2 separate regions of the Homo sapiens genome follow, and region 1 is linked to region 2. The links come from fine-mapping of genetic effects on gene expression. Tissue or cell type: whole blood. Region 2 holds a variant in brackets; the other region holds the start of a gene. All regions are shown on one strand. Distances are from middle to middle.

The links. PIP is the estimated chance that this variant, and not a neighbour inherited with it, causes the effect.
Region 1: HMOX1 starts here. The variant in region 2 is fine-mapped to the expression of HMOX1 in whole blood (TOPMed, PIP above 0.99).

What each region holds. Positions count from the first base shown.
Region 1 is chr22:35,379,655-35,382,559 of GRCh38, forward strand. It overlaps HMOX1 (heme oxygenase 1), which reads left to right and starts at 1,442. Exons shown (of 5, transcript NM_002133.3): 1 at 1,442-1,542. The coding sequence starts at 1,520. RefSeq lists silencers at 1,163-1,242, 1,543-1,712.
Region 2 is chr22:35,408,489-35,411,393 of GRCh38, forward strand. MCM5 (minichromosome maintenance complex component 5) reads left to right here. Exons shown (of 17, transcript NM_006739.4): 6 at 1-75; 7 at 2,256-2,422. Among named protein-coding and RNA genes, the nearest start is that of MCM5, 9.8 kb to the left of the region's middle. RefSeq lists enhancers at 1,571-1,630, 1,721-1,940, 2,021-2,160. The variant G/T (reference allele first, on the strand shown) is at 1,757.

The DNA of each region.
Region 1 (2,905 bases), 29 kb before region 2:
GGCTGTAGTGGCCCTAGGCTGAATTCCAGGAAGTTTTTTTTTTTTTTTTTTGTTTTTTTTTTTTTTTGAGGGACAGCGTCTTGTTCTGTTGCCCAGGTTAGAATACAGTAGCGTGGTCACAGCTCACTCCAGCCTCTACATCCCAGGCTCAAGTGAACCTCCAGCCTCAGCCTCCCAAGTAGCTGGGACCACAGGCATGTGCCACCATGCCCAGCTAATTTATTTTATATTTTGTAGAGACAGGGTCTCCCTATGTTGCCCAGGCCAGTCTCGAACTCAAAGCAATCTTCCCACCTCGACTGGGCTCAAAGCGCTCTTCCCACCTCAACCTCCCAAAGTACTGGGACTACAGGTGTGAGCTACCATGCCAGGCCTGAAAGCCATCTTAAAAAAAAAATCTTAGAATGAGAATCACAGTATTGGGAAAGGACTGTATGAATCATCTGGTCCATTCGTTTTGTCCTCTGGGTTCACCCAGTGACCCTATTTCCCCCGAGTTCTAAGGAGTCCACCTCATGCAGAATTGATTCAATAGGCGATCAGCAAGGGCCAGCTCTGCTCTGGGCCCTGAGCAGGCACTGAGTATAAGTCAGACCTGAATGTGCCTGGAAGAGTGTCCCACGCATTCCAGCAGGGAAGCAGTTTGTATGACAGGTGTCCCAGTCCAGGCGGATACCAGGTGCTGCCAGAGTGTGGAGGAGGCAGGCGGGGACTTAGTCTCCTCCCTGGGTTTGGACACTGGCATCCTGCTTTATGTGTGACACCACTGCACCCCTCTGAGCCTCGGTTTCCCCATCTGTAAAATAGAAGCGATCTACCCTCACAGGTCAGTTGTAGGGATGAACCATGAAAATACTAGAGTCTCTGTTTTTTGACAGGAACTCAAAAAACAGATCCTAAATGTACATTTAAAGAGGGTGTGAGGAGGCAAGCAGTCAGCAGAGGATTCCAGCAGGTGACATTTTAGGGAGCTGGAGACAGCAGAGCCTGGGGTTGCTAAGTTCCTGATGTTGCCCACCAGGCTATTGCTCTGAGCAGCGCTGCCTCCCAGCTTTCTGGAACCTTCTGGGACGCCTGGGGTGCATCAAGTCCCAAGGGGACAGGGAGCAGAAGGGGGGGCTCTGGAAGGAGCAAAATCACACCCAGAGCCTGCAGCTTCTCAGATTTCCTTAAAGGTTTTGTGTGTGTGTGTGTGTGTGTGTGTGTGTGTATGTGTGTGTGTGTGTGTGTGTGTGTGTGTTTTCTCTAAAAGTCCTATGGCCAGACTTTGTTTCCCAAGGGTCATATGACTGCTCCTCTCCACCCCACACTGGCCCGGGGCGGGCTGGGCGCGGGCCCCTGCGGGTGTTGCAACGCCCGGCCAGAAAGTGGGCATCAGCTGTTCCGCCTGGCCCACGTGACCCGCCGAGCATAAATGTGACCGGCCGCGGCTCCGGCAGTCAACGCCTGCCTCCTCTCGAGCGTCCTCAGCGCAGCCGCCGCCCGCGGAGCCAGCACGAACGAGCCCAGCACCGGCCGGATGGAGCGTCCGCAACCCGACAGGCAAGCGCGGGGCGCGGGACGCGGGACGGGCGCCTTTCTCTCCCAACCCTGCTTGCGTCCTAGCCCCACCCCGGGACACTGCCACACAGCGACAGAGCCCAGGAGCCAGAAACTTGGGCTCTGGAGTCAGGAGGTGCGGGGTTCTGATCCTGCCTGTGCCCGTAGGGTAGTTGGAGGGAGGAACGGTAATTTACATGCCTGGCACCCTGGTATGCGGTTGGTGACCAAGATGGGAGTGTCCCTAGAGTATCCAGTCTTTGAGGTAGCCAATTTTTTTTTTAATCCTACTTTCGAGGTGTGTTTGGAGTTGCTCTCTGCTGAATCTAGATCTCTGGGGCTCTGCCAGCCTGGGGGAGCATGCTTGGTTCTCTTGGTGGCATCTGTCCCTCACTAGCTACGGAGGACCTGAGCCAGACATCACCCTGGCTGCGGTGTTCCATGTCTCACAGATAGCCCAGTTCAGGGAGGCGACATGCCCAAGAGTGCTCAGTTAGCTGGTGTCAGAACTGGGCCTTGAACCTTGGTCTGCCCACCTCCAGGTCTCACTCATTCCCTTCTTTCAATAATTTGTTAGTATTTTTTTTTTTAACTCCTGGGCTTAAGCATCCTCCCACCTCAGCCTCCAGAGTAGCTGGGACTTACAGACATGTGCCATTTCTCCTGAGACTTTGACCAGCTGTGTTGTAGAACAGGGAAGCAGGGCAGGAGAAAAGGGAAAAATGACAATTCTGTGGGGAGGCAGGGATACGGACCCATGACAGAAATACTCCCAGAAAGACTTTTTCTTTGACTAAAGCAGACTTTCTCAGGCTTTTTAACCCTGACGCCTTCATGATGAGCATAACATGATAGGGGGTCATGAGATTTGCATCTGGAACTTTAACAAAATAACTGAATTAAATATTGGGTCTAAAAGCCAATCAAAGCAATTACAAACTTGGAGATGCCGGTTCATGGGGCTGCTGCTTCTTCCTGGGTTATGCTGTACCTCCTCCTCCTCTCCACTGCGAACTACCTGTACCAGGATTTCCCCCTTGGTTTGGGGGACTGTATTATTTAGTGTTTTAATGACTGAAGAGTGTTTACAAAGCTGCGAGAGCCACCATGCCCAGCCTGAATTTGTTTTTTGTTTTTTGTTTTTTTGTTTTTTTGCTTTTTTGCTTTTCTTTTTTTGAGATGGAGTGTTGCTCTGTTGCCCAGGCTGGAGTGCAGTGGCGCGATCTCGGCTCACTGCAACCTCTGCCTCCTGGGTTCAAGCGATTCTCCTGCCTCAGCCTCCCAAGTAGTTGGGATTACAGGCGCCCACTACCATGCCCGGCTATTTTTTTTTTTTTTTTTGTATTTTTAGTAGAGATAGGGTTTC
Region 2 (2,905 bases):
CCTGAAGCTGCAGGAGCTGCCTGATGCAGTCCCCCACGGGGAGATGCCCAGACACATGCAGCTCTACTGCGACAGGTGAGGCAGACGGGCTGGGAGGTGGGCATCTACGACGGTGGATGTCCCAGCTGTGGCCCTAACCCGAGTGTTGGGAGTGGGTCATCTGGAGCAGGGTGAGTAGGGTGGAGAAGGTGGCCAGTTGCAGAGCACCTGCTCTGTGCCTAATGCTTCCATAAGTTCCTCTCATCTCGTCTTTCCATAATCTGCAGGGGCATGTCAGCCCCATTTTGCAGATGAGGAAATGTAACTTGGAGAGATTAAATGACTTCCTGTGTGGAGGAGAGCCGGGCTTTCAGCCTATGTGCATTGCTTTCCAAAGTCTGTGTTCTTCTTAGGATAAGAGGCCCAGGATGCACAGCTAGATAACCAATAGCTGGCAAAGCCTCTTCCCAGCCTGACACCCCACCTCCTACCCCAGGCTTTCTTTTTTTTTTTGAGACGGAGTCTGGCTCTGTAGCCCAGGCTGGAGTGCAGTGGCGCGATCTCGGCTCACTGCAAGCTCCACCTCCTGGGTTAATGCCATTCTCCGGCCTCAGCCTCCCGAGTAGCTGGGACTACAGGCGCCCTCCACCATGCCCAGCTAATTTTTTGTATTTTTTAGTAGAGATGAGGTTTCACCTTGTTAGCCAGGATGGTCTCGATCTCCTGACCTCATGATCCGCCCGCCTTGGCCTCCCAGAGTGCGTGGATTACAGGCGTGAGCTACTGCGCCCAGCGTACCCCAGGCTTTCTGTTAAGATCCTGCTGAACAGCCACGGTGGCTCATGCCTGTAATCCCAGCACTTGGAGCGGCTGAGACAGGAGGATTGCTTGAGGCCAGGAGTTCAAGACCAGCCTGGGCAACATACTGAGACCCTGTATCTAAAAAAAAAAAATTTATTAGCTGGGTGTTGGGGCAGACACCTATAATCCCAGCTACTTGGGAGGCTGAGGTGGGAGAATCACTTGACCCCAGAAGGTTGAGGTTGCAGTGAGCTGTGATTACACCACTCCACTCTAGCCTGGGTGACAGAGCGAGACCCTGTCTCAAAAAGGAAAACAAAAAAGATTCTACTGAGGGGGAGAGGGTACTGAGCTTGGGCCCCTCATAGTAACCTGGGTGGAAGGTTTTGAGATCTTTGATTAGGGTTCTAACCTGGGCTTGCATATCCTGAAATTGCATGCAGATGTTCTGAGGAGAGCGGATCTGTAGCTTCTGTTAACTTCATTAGTGGCAACAGAGTATGTAGGGGTCAGGCTCTTGCTCCCTGGGCAAGTTATGTGACTTTGTCAAGCTTCAGTTTCCTCATCAGTAAAATGGGGATAAGGACAGTCCTTAATCTCTCAGAGGGCTGCTTGAAAATGCATGTGGTGTTTAGCACAATTCCTTCATGCAGATTACGTAATCAGGATGTATGATTTTCCAAGCAGTTCATGAATCCTGAAAACTTACGAAGTGGGTATGGGAAGAGGGGAGTTGGAGGCTCATGGAGTGACGGTGATGGTCTTTTCTGGAGCTGTGATGCCTGATGGTATAAAGCACTTCTATGTCTGCTGCCTCACCTGACTCCACAACATGAGAGGCAGGCCACTTCGTCATCCCCCTAGGCTCAGAGGTGCAATGACTTCGTTGAGGTCACACAGCGACTAAGTGTCCCTCCACACCACCCTGTCTCTGACTGGGGGACTTGGAGACTTCCCTGTTTCAACATCTCATTTT[G/T]AAAACAGGAAATGAAAACCCAGAGGCAAAATGAGCTCACAGAGCCATGAAGAGGCAAAAAGGGCGAGTGGCCCCTCAAGGAGGCTGGGGGGCGTGAAGAGGAAGTCTTGCCCTGAGAGGCTAAAGGGCACCACACAGTGAGCTGACAGCAGACACGTGGAGATGGGGCTTTTGGAGGGCTCTGTGGGCTGGCACTAAGCCTCCTAAACCAGCGTACAAATGAGTTAGCGAGTTCAGCGAGAGTCAGGCCACCACCTGCCTTTCTGTTTGGCTGTCACTGTGGGCAACACCATCCTCCAAGCAGCTGAGCATGGGCTGAGTGACGTGGGGAGAGAGGCCGTTCTCTGGGCTCCGTGGGGCTGGAGCCAGCTCAGCATGTGGTGCCTGTGGCAAAAATGCTGCAGTGGACCCTGCGTGTCCTGGGCATGGGTGGAATCAGAGACTTGCTGTCCAAGTCAGAATCTCAGCTTTTCTCCTTTCTCCTCTACCCTCCTCTCAGGTACCTGTGTGACAAGGTCGTCCCTGGGAACAGGGTTACCATCATGGGCATCTACTCCATCAAGAAGTTTGGCCTGACTACCAGCAGGGGCCGTGACAGGGTGGGCGTGGGCATCCGAAGCTCCTACATCCGTGTCCTGGGCATCCAGGTGGACACAGATGGCTCTGGTGAGTTGGCTTTGGGGTCCTGGCTTAGCCCTGCTAAAAGGCTGTGCTTGCATACTTCTGGTAACAGGCAGCTCGTTACTTCATGAGGTAGCCCAGGATGTCCTTGTGTTGCTCATATCATTAGAACGTTCATTTTTATATTAAGTGATCCCTGGAACTTCCACACATTGGTCCTAGCTGTGGCTCCTGGGCTGAGGGTGTTTGCCTAAGTGCAGGATTAAGGCAGAAGGACTGAGGTCAAATCACTGGGGAATTACTGAAAGCCAAGTCTTCACTTCTGTGACAGGAAATACAAGAGAAGTGAAACGCAGGGTTCCAGGCAGGCAGCCGCCTAGTGTCTAGTTGGAGAAATAAGAAAACTGTGAGACCGCTGGGGACATGTGGGTAAAGTGGTGGCTGTTGTGGGTCACGCAGTTCCAAGGAGGTGCTAAAGGAGGTCTGAGAAGGAGGAGGTCGGGGCTGGGCCTTGGGGAAGGTTTTCTG